Linked DNA regions of Homo sapiens: region 1 is linked to region 2. The links come from fine-mapping of genetic effects on gene expression. A gene starts in region 2. The other region holds a variant in brackets. All regions are shown on one strand. Distances are between the middles of the regions. Region 1 overlaps SDHC (succinate dehydrogenase complex subunit C). Region 2 holds the start of MPZ (myelin protein zero).

The links. PIP is the estimated chance that this variant, and not a neighbour inherited with it, causes the effect.
Region 1: its variant is the best candidate, but not a certain one, in a credible set for the expression of MPZ in whole blood (GTEx, PIP 0.52).

What each region holds. Positions count from the first base shown.
Region 1 is chr1:161,331,782-161,336,180 of GRCh38, reverse strand. The region is part of intron 3 of SDHC (succinate dehydrogenase complex subunit C); the gene reads right to left. Among named protein-coding and RNA genes, the nearest start is that of SDHC, 20 kb to the right of the region's middle. The variant A/G (reference allele first, on the strand shown) is at 1,846.
Region 2 is chr1:161,307,633-161,312,027 of GRCh38, reverse strand. It overlaps MPZ (myelin protein zero), which reads left to right and starts at 2,060. Exons shown (of 6, transcript NM_000530.8): 1 at 2,060-2,189. The coding sequence starts at 2,123.

The DNA of each region.
Region 1 (4,399 bases), 24 kb before region 2:
GGCCTCCTAAAACTTTTATCTCTTAAAAAAGAAAGTTTCACGATTGAGAAGCAAGAAATAAGATCACTTATTAGCCTCCTTCTGTTTTAGTGGCATGTCCAGTTTCTACAAACAGGATTATTCCTGGAATCTGGCTTGGAAAAAAACTGAAGGGTTATGGTATTTGTGGAGGTGGTTAAAAAATGGCCAGCCTCACTGGCAGAAACCCAAGAGAGTAGCAGAGCTCAAGATGCTTTGCTGGGTTAGCCTAAAAAAACAAAAAGCAGATTTACAGGGACTTATCTTCAAAGACATCAGCAAAAACTGTTATCAATGCCACTTCTGAAGATGAGATAAACAGAGATGTATGTATATATGTATATATGTATGTATGATGTATGTATATACTTATATACACACACGTATGTATGTGACAGAGATTGCATACATATATATGCTACCTCTATCCACAGACCGGGCCTAGAAGCAATGACATCCTAGTAGCAATGAGCACATCTAGCACCCAGATACTGATTTCACAGGAGTCATTTTGAAGAACTCCTATTGGCCAGGTCTGAGACAATTTGAACACCAAAATAAATAATAACAAAGTATAATCCTTTGGGGAAATTAATGCTTGATCCATATTATCCTTGAGTCCATACTGATAAAAAAAGCAAGCTTTACCCTATCAAAACAAACAAATCTAGAAAATATTATTATAATATATAAAATTAGCAACATTACATTTGGCAACTATCACAGTAATAAATGATTTAGGCAAGTACCTCCAACAGATACTGGTGAGTAAATATCTGATGAGAAAGAATATTTAGAGTTTCAAAGTATCTCCCGCCAAAATATGTATTAATTAATACAACATCCTTATTCAGTAACTTTACAGTAGAGAAATCTAGCAGACACATCTTAAACAGTGACAAAAGTTAACATCACCAGTAATGGGATAAATCATTAGCACATGCCTCCTGATACAATGTACTGACAGAAGTATAGCATTACCGCAGGGGTATTCCTGCCAAAAATGCATAAATCATAAAACACCAAACAAACCCAAATTAAGGAACATTCTAAAAACGTCAAGGTCATAACAAATAAGGAAAGACTAAAAATCTCTCCCATACTGCAGGAAAAAGAGACATGACAACTAAATGTAATATATAATTCTAGGTTCAATCTTAGGCCTATAAAGGACATTAATGGGACAAGTGGCAAAATTTGAATGGGACCTACGGTTTAGATAGTAACATTGTGATGGTTGTACTTTGGAGACTGTCTTGCAATTGAGGAAATGCACAGCCAAGTATTAAGAAGTTGTAGTAGGCAGAATAATAGTCTCCTTAAAGATGTTCATGTTCTAATCTCTAGAACCTATGAATATGTTACCTTTTACGGCAAAGGGGAATTAAGGTTGCAGATGAAATTAAGGTTGCTAATAAGACAACCTTAAGATAAAGAGGGAGTGAGCCGTAATCCCAGAACTTTGGGAGGCCGAAGTGGGAGGACAGCTTGAGCCCAGGAGCTCAAAGCCAGCTTGAGCAACATGGCCAAACTCCATTTCTAGAAAATATTTAAAAATTAGTCAGCCATGGTGGTACATGCCTATAGTCCCAGGTACTTGGGAGGCTGACCTGGGAGGATCACTTAAGCCTGGGAAGTCAAGGCTGCAGTAAGCCATGATCATGCCCCACAAGTTTTATTAAAAACTTGTAGAAAACTTGTGCCATTTCAGCCTGGGCAACACAGCGAGACCCTGTCTCAAAAACAAAACAACATAGACTATCCTAGATTATTAGGACGGGCCCAGTGTAATCATAAAGGTCCTTAACAGCAGAAGAGAGAAATGAG[A/G]AAAAAGAAAAGCAGAAGAGGCTCACAGAAGAAAGGAGTCAAAGAAGAAATGAGATGACGGAAGCAGGGTCAGCATGATGTGACTGAAGAACTCAATGTAGCATTGCTGGTTCTGAAGATGGAGGAAGGAGGGCAGAAGCCAAGGAATTCAGATAGCCTCTAGAAGCTAGGAAAGGCAAGGACATGGATTCTTCCCTAGGGCCTCCAGAAGGAAACAGAGCCCTGCCAACACCTTGATTTTAGCCCAGGGAGATCTTGTCAAACTTCTGACCCACAGAACTATAAGGTAATAAATTTGTGTTGTTTTAAGTCACAACGTTTGCAGTAATTTGTTATGGCAGCAAATAGAAAATTAGTATAGATTGTGGTAACTAGAAGAGGAGTGCAGCTGTAACGAATACCCAAAAATGTGGAAGTGCCTTTGAAATTGGGCAGTGGGAAGGGACTAAAAGAATTTTTAGGACCATGATTTTTAAAAAGCCCAGATTGCCTTGAACAGATTTTAGTAGAAATATGGATGTTGTGCTGGTGAGGATGTGGAGAAACTAGAACCCTTATACACTGCTAGTGTGAATGTAAAATGGTACAGTCACTTTGGAAAACAGTCTGGTAGTTCCTCAAAATGTTAAACATAGGCCGGATGCCGTGGCTCATGCCTGTAATCCCAGCACTTTGGGACGCTGAGGCAGGTGGATCATGAGGTCAAGAGATCAAGACCATCCTGACCGACATGGTGAAACCCCGTCTCTATTAAAAATAGAAAAATTAGTTGGGCGCGGTGGCGCATGCCTGTAGTCCCAGCTACTTGGGGGCTGAGGCAGGAATATCGCTTGAACCTGGGAGGTGAAGGTTGCAATGAGCTGAGACTGCGCCACTGCACTCCAGCCTGGCAACAGAGCGAGACTCCGTCTTTAAAAAAAAAAAAAAAAAAAAAGTTAAACATAGAGTTACCATATGATGCAATAATTCTACTCCTAGGTATATACCCAAGAGAAATGAAACATATGTGCACACAAAAACTTGTACACAAATAAATGGTCATAGCAGCATTATTTCTAATAGCCAAAAAGTGGAAACAGCTCAAACGTCCATCAATTTATAAATGGGTAAATAAAACACTGTATGTACATACAATGAAATATTATTCGGCCATAAAAAGGAAGGAAGCACTGATATATGCTAAAACATGGATGAACGCTGAAAACATTATGGTAAGTAAAAGAAGCCAGTCACAAAGGACCACATATTTTATCACTACATTTAAATGAAATGTTCGGAATAGGTAAGTTTATAAGATGGAAAGTAAATAACTGATTGTCTAGAGCTGGGAGGGACAAACGATTGGTGGTGATGGCTAAGAAATGTAGTGTTTCTTTCTGGAGTGATGAAAACATTCTAAAATTGGCTGGGCATGGTGGCTCATGCCTATAATCCCAGCACTTTGGGAGGCCAAGGCAGGCAGATCACCTGAGGTCAGGAGTTCAAGACCAGCCTGGCCAACACAGTGAAACCCCTGTCTCTACTAAAAACACAAAAATTAGTCAGGCATGGTGATGCACATCTGTAATCCCAGCTACTTGGGAGGCTGAGGCAGGAGATCACTTGAACACAGAAGGCAGAGGTTGCAGTAAACCGAGATCATGCCACTGTACTCCAGCCTGGGCAACAGAGCGAGACTCCATCTCAAAAAAAAAAAAAAGAAAGAAAAAGAAAATATTCTAAAATTGTGGTGATGGCTGAACAACTCTGCATTTAACAAAAGCCACTAAACTGTATGCTTTCAATGTGTGAACCGTATGGTATACAAATTGTATTTCAAAAAGGAAAATATGAATGTTAATTCAGCTAGTAAAGGCTCAGGAGGAAATTAGGAACATGTTATTAAAAACTTGTGGAAAGGGGATCCTTGTTACATAGGGCAGAAAGTTTAGCAGAATTATGTCCCACGATAATGTGGAAAGCAGAATCTACTGAAGTGGCAACCTGATTTCTTTTTGCTCTTTATAGTAAAATGTGAAAGGAAAGAAACAGACTGAGGGAAGAGCTGTTAAATAAAAAGCAAGCTGAGCACGGTGGCTTACAGCTGTAACCCCAACACTTTGGGAGAAAAAGGTGAGAGGATCGCTTGAGCTCAGGGGTTCAAGACCAGCCTGGGTAATATATTGAGACCGTCTTTACAAAAAATTAAAAACTAGCCAGGTGTGGTGGCATGCACCTGTAGTCCCAGCTACTCAGGAGGCTGAGTCAGGAAGATCACTTGAGTCCAGGAGTTCAAGGTTACAACGAGCTATGATCACACCACTACTACACTCCAGCCTGGGTGGCACAGTGAAACCCTGTCTCTTAAATAAAACAAACAAACAAACAAAAAAACAGGACTTAATGATTTGGGAAATTCTCAGCCTTCCCAGCAAAAATACTAAAATTAAGATATTCACTGTTGCCAGGCGCGGTGGCTCATGCCTGTAATCCCAGCACTTTGGGAGGCCAGGGCGGGCAGATCACGAGGTCAGGAGCTCAAGACCAGTCTAGCCAACATAGCGAAACCCCGTCT
Region 2 (4,395 bases):
TGGTGGCTGCCTGTGGCTCAGCTAATCTGGAGGCTGAAGTGGGAGGATCGCTTGAGCCTGGGAGGTTGAGGCTGCAGTGAGCTATCATTGCACCACTGCACTACAGCCTGGGCCACAGAGCAAGACCTTATCTCTGAAAAAAAAAAAAAAAAAATTTTAAACTAGCCCAGCATGCTGGCATGCGCCTGTAGTTCCCAGCTACTTGGAAAGCTGAGGTAGGACAATTGCTTGAGCCTCAGAGGTCAAGGCTGCAGTGAGCCATGATCATGCCACTGCATTCCAGCCTGGGCAACAGAGCGAGACTGCCTCAACAAACAAAAAAACCTCAGCTCTGGTTATGTAGACATCCCCATGGCTAACTCCACCCCAACACCTTCAGGTTCTCATGATGTACCAAATTGAATTCACCTTCTTTCACCTGTCATTTAAGGCCTTTCACAAACTGGTTTCGACTTTCCTGTCCAGTCTCATTTCTGACTATGCCACTTCAAGTTTCCCCAAATCAAGTCAAAGTGGATGGCACAAGATCGGCCCTGAATATATCCAACACTTCAGAAACCTACATCTCATATACATACACACACACACACACACACACACACACACACACACACACACACACACACACATTCTGTCTCTCCGTCTCACCTCTTTGTCCTTGCTTTTGCTGTTCTATCTTCTGGTAACCCTCCCTATCTCCCTTTCCAAAATGACAGTCATCCTTCAAGGCTGATTCATATCTAACATTGCCTCCTAGACACAACTATTCTTCCCTCTGAACTATTTATTTGTTTGATTATTTATTTATTTATTTATTTTTGAGACAGAGTTTCATTCTGTAGCCCAGGGTGGAAAGCAGTGGCACAATCATAGCTCGCTGCAGCCTTGATTTCCCAGGTTCAAGCGATCTTCCTGCCTCAGCCTCCCAAGTAGCTGGGACTACAAGCATGTGATAACATGCCCAGCTGATTTTTTAAAAAATTTTGGTAGAGGCGAGGTCTTGCTATGTTGCCCAGACAGGTCTCAAACTCCTAAACTCAAGCAATCCTCCTGCATAAGCCTACCAAAGTGCTGAGATTACAGGTGTCAGCCACTATGCCTGGCATAAACTTCATTTATTAAAGTTTATTTTGTCTTTAATCTCTCATATAACTTAGTCTTCCTGATATTGCAGCTGTGTGTGCCCCTCTTTTGTACTCCCAGCATTTTGTTCATTACTAAAGGAAGTGTCATGGCTTATTATACTTGATTGTTGATGGGTTTGTCCTCTGATCTTCCCATCTCCACCTCCCCAAACCAAATTTTCAACTCCTTGCTGGAAGGACTTAATTTTTATTCCTCTCTCTATTACCTGCATTCTCATACTTTACATATTGCTGGCACTTAATACAATTTTGTAGCCTTGAAATAAATTGAAATGGACTTAAACAGCAGCATGAAGCACTGAAGGACTTCTTGACAAACGGAAAGGTCAGGGGCTTCTTGCCTGGAAATAGTCCAGTGGAGAAAAACTTCTGTCTGGGAAGAATCGCACAGGATGAAGGGAGGTGCGGGGAAAAAAACTCCCATAGGACTTGGTCATCTCAAGAAGTCTGTAATGCAGCCCACATTAGAGGAGATAACAGGGGATATCCTATTTTCAGAGTTCTCTGGGGGAAACCTCCCTCTAGTTCCTAGGGCTGTGAGGCAGCCTCTCTCAGGCAAGGAGGCTGAGGAGAAATCCCTTTTTATGGCCTTTAAATTGAGGTTCCATATCTATCCCTCAGAGAAGTGTGTCTGTGTCCCTGTTTTTGTCCCTCTCCCTCACCACCCCCCACAACATTCCAGCCTGGGGCAGGGGGAGGCCAGTGGACACAAAGCCCTCTGTGTATGGGGTGGTATGTGTCCCCCCACCCCTCCACCCAGACTATACAATGCCCCTTCTGCTCCCTGCACTCTGCCCCCCTCCCCACCACCTCTCAACTGCACATGCCAGGCTGCAATTGGTTACTGGCTGAGGACAGCCCCCTCATGCTGGGGCCCTAGGGGATTTTAAGCAGGTTCCAGGAACCCCCCGTTCAGTTCCTGGTCCCCCACTTTCTCAACCCCACAGATGCTCCGGGCCCCTGCCCCTGCCCCAGCTATGGCTCCTGGGGCTCCCTCATCCAGCCCCAGCCCTATCCTGGCTGTGCTGCTCTTCTCTTCTTTGGGTAAGTGGAGCCACTCTACTCTGGGAGTCTTGGGACTCAGGTGTCTCTCAGCAATCCCCACAGCCTTTGCTGCACTCCCCACTGCAACCAAAGAAAGAACAAGCAGGAGCAGGAAGGTGACATTATATTCAGAAAGAAAAAATATGCGGCTGGGCATGGTGGCTCATGCCTGTAATCCCAGCACTTTGGGAGGCCAAGGTGGGATAATTATTTGAGCCCCAGGAGTTGGAGACCAGCCTGGACAACATAACCAGACTCCATCTGTAAAATTCAAAAAAAAAAAAAATATATATATATATATATGAAAAGAAAAAAATATGCATTTAGAGGGAGGAAGTAGAGGTTTTATTTTAAAAGAAAGGGTAAAAGAGAGTGTAGCAAGCTTCCCTGAGTGGTGGCCATGGCTGGACCCAGGTTGGAAATAGTAGCATGCCCCCAGAGCCATGCTAACAGCCTGGTGGGAAGCAGTGTTAGATTACATAAAGAAATAGGCTCAAACACCTGGGTTTGGTTCCCACTCGTCCCCTAGCAGTGCAGGAGGTGCCTTAACCTTAGTTTCCCAGAAGGAAAAAGAGAGTGCGATCTAAGTAAGGAGCCCAGGTTTGTGGTCTCAGCTCCTCAGATTTTTTGTCTCTCTATGGCTCCTCACCTGTTGTGTGGGTGAATGGAGTGAGGTTCTATGAGATTCTGGGATCTTATCCCTCTAAAGCTGTCTTCCTTCATAAGCTGACCAGCCCTTTCCTTGCCCCCTGGCAGATGTTGGGTGAGTAAGAGGTCAAAGCAGGATTATTGGAATGGCCCCTTCCCTTCTCTGAACTGCCCTGAATCCTAGTGCAATGAGTGAGCCATAGGCAAGTGGGGGTGGTGGGGAGGACATCAAGGGAAAGGGGGCTGGCCAGAATGCCCAGGGTTCTCTGCTGTCAGCTGCTTGAGCCCTAGACTCTTCTGGGTTGTACTGGGCTATTTGGGGGTACCCTGAGAAAATGTTAAAGATAGAGAGTTGGAGAAGGGCATAGTGAGGGAAATAGGGGGAAGGAATCTTGATGTATAAGGAAGAGGGAGAGTTGTGTCTCAACACTTGTTCCACTCATAGAACCATTGAGCACAGCTGAGAAGGGCAATGGTTGATATTGTAACAGGAGGAATAGAAGTTAGAGCCAGTGAATTATCTCCCTTGTTAAACAAGGGGGATTCCCAAGAAGGTTCTAAGGTGGAAGTTCCAGAAGGTAAGTACATGGTATTGCATGCTGAGGTGAGAGATTCAGGACAGTTGGGGTGGGAGTAGGGGTGGCATGAGCCCCCCAGCGTTGGTCAGACAATGGAACTTTGTTTGGTTGCCACCTCCCCCTCCTGTAGAACAAAAAGGTCTACAGTTGCCCCTCCCTGGGGCCAGCCCACACACATAGTCTCTCTGGAATGACCTTCCTTGTGTGGGTAAGTCTTGGGGATGGCACTGGGCCACAGTGGCCAAGAGGAAGGTGAGGACAGTTGAACCATAGAGGGCTCACATGTAGGGTCATCTGAGCTGTAGGCTTGGGGTGTTGCTCTGCACCCAGCTGAGAGGGGTATGAGGCCCTTCCCTTCCTGACTCTCCAGTCAAGAGCAAGCTGTATGGCAACCAGGGATTCAGCAATGAGGACAGTTGTGCCAGGGAAGAAGACTTATATTTTCTAGTTATCTTCATTTTTTTCTGCAAGAAATCTGAGTTTGCTGTATTGTGAAATCCAATGCAGCTGTTAAAATAAGATTGATATCTATGAATCAACAGGGAAAGCTCCTCCAGATACGTAAGTTCTTAAGCAAAAAGACACTAGAATACAATGCAATATGTATGTGGAAAAAAAAACTCCACAAAACTATTTGTTGTAAGTATGTGTATATCTTGAGTTTATTGAGTTTATACTGAGTTTGATTCATATTAAATGGATAACTTGTTACATCTTGGAAGGGAATACAGGAAAGGAATTTGTTGGGCTAAGTGTCAAAGGAGACTTTTGTTTTATTTCTATTGCTTGAATAGTTTATAAGAAGAGTACAATATGTATTACCTGTATAATTTATAATAAATTTTAAAAATTTAGAACACTGCATCTAAAGGATAGCTTAAAAGTTAGATACTGACCCAAAGGAGAAGTGAGACTTAAAGACAGAACCCAATCTCTGGAAGTCCTCAAGAGAATTCTGTTACTGCTGATTTCATCTTCTC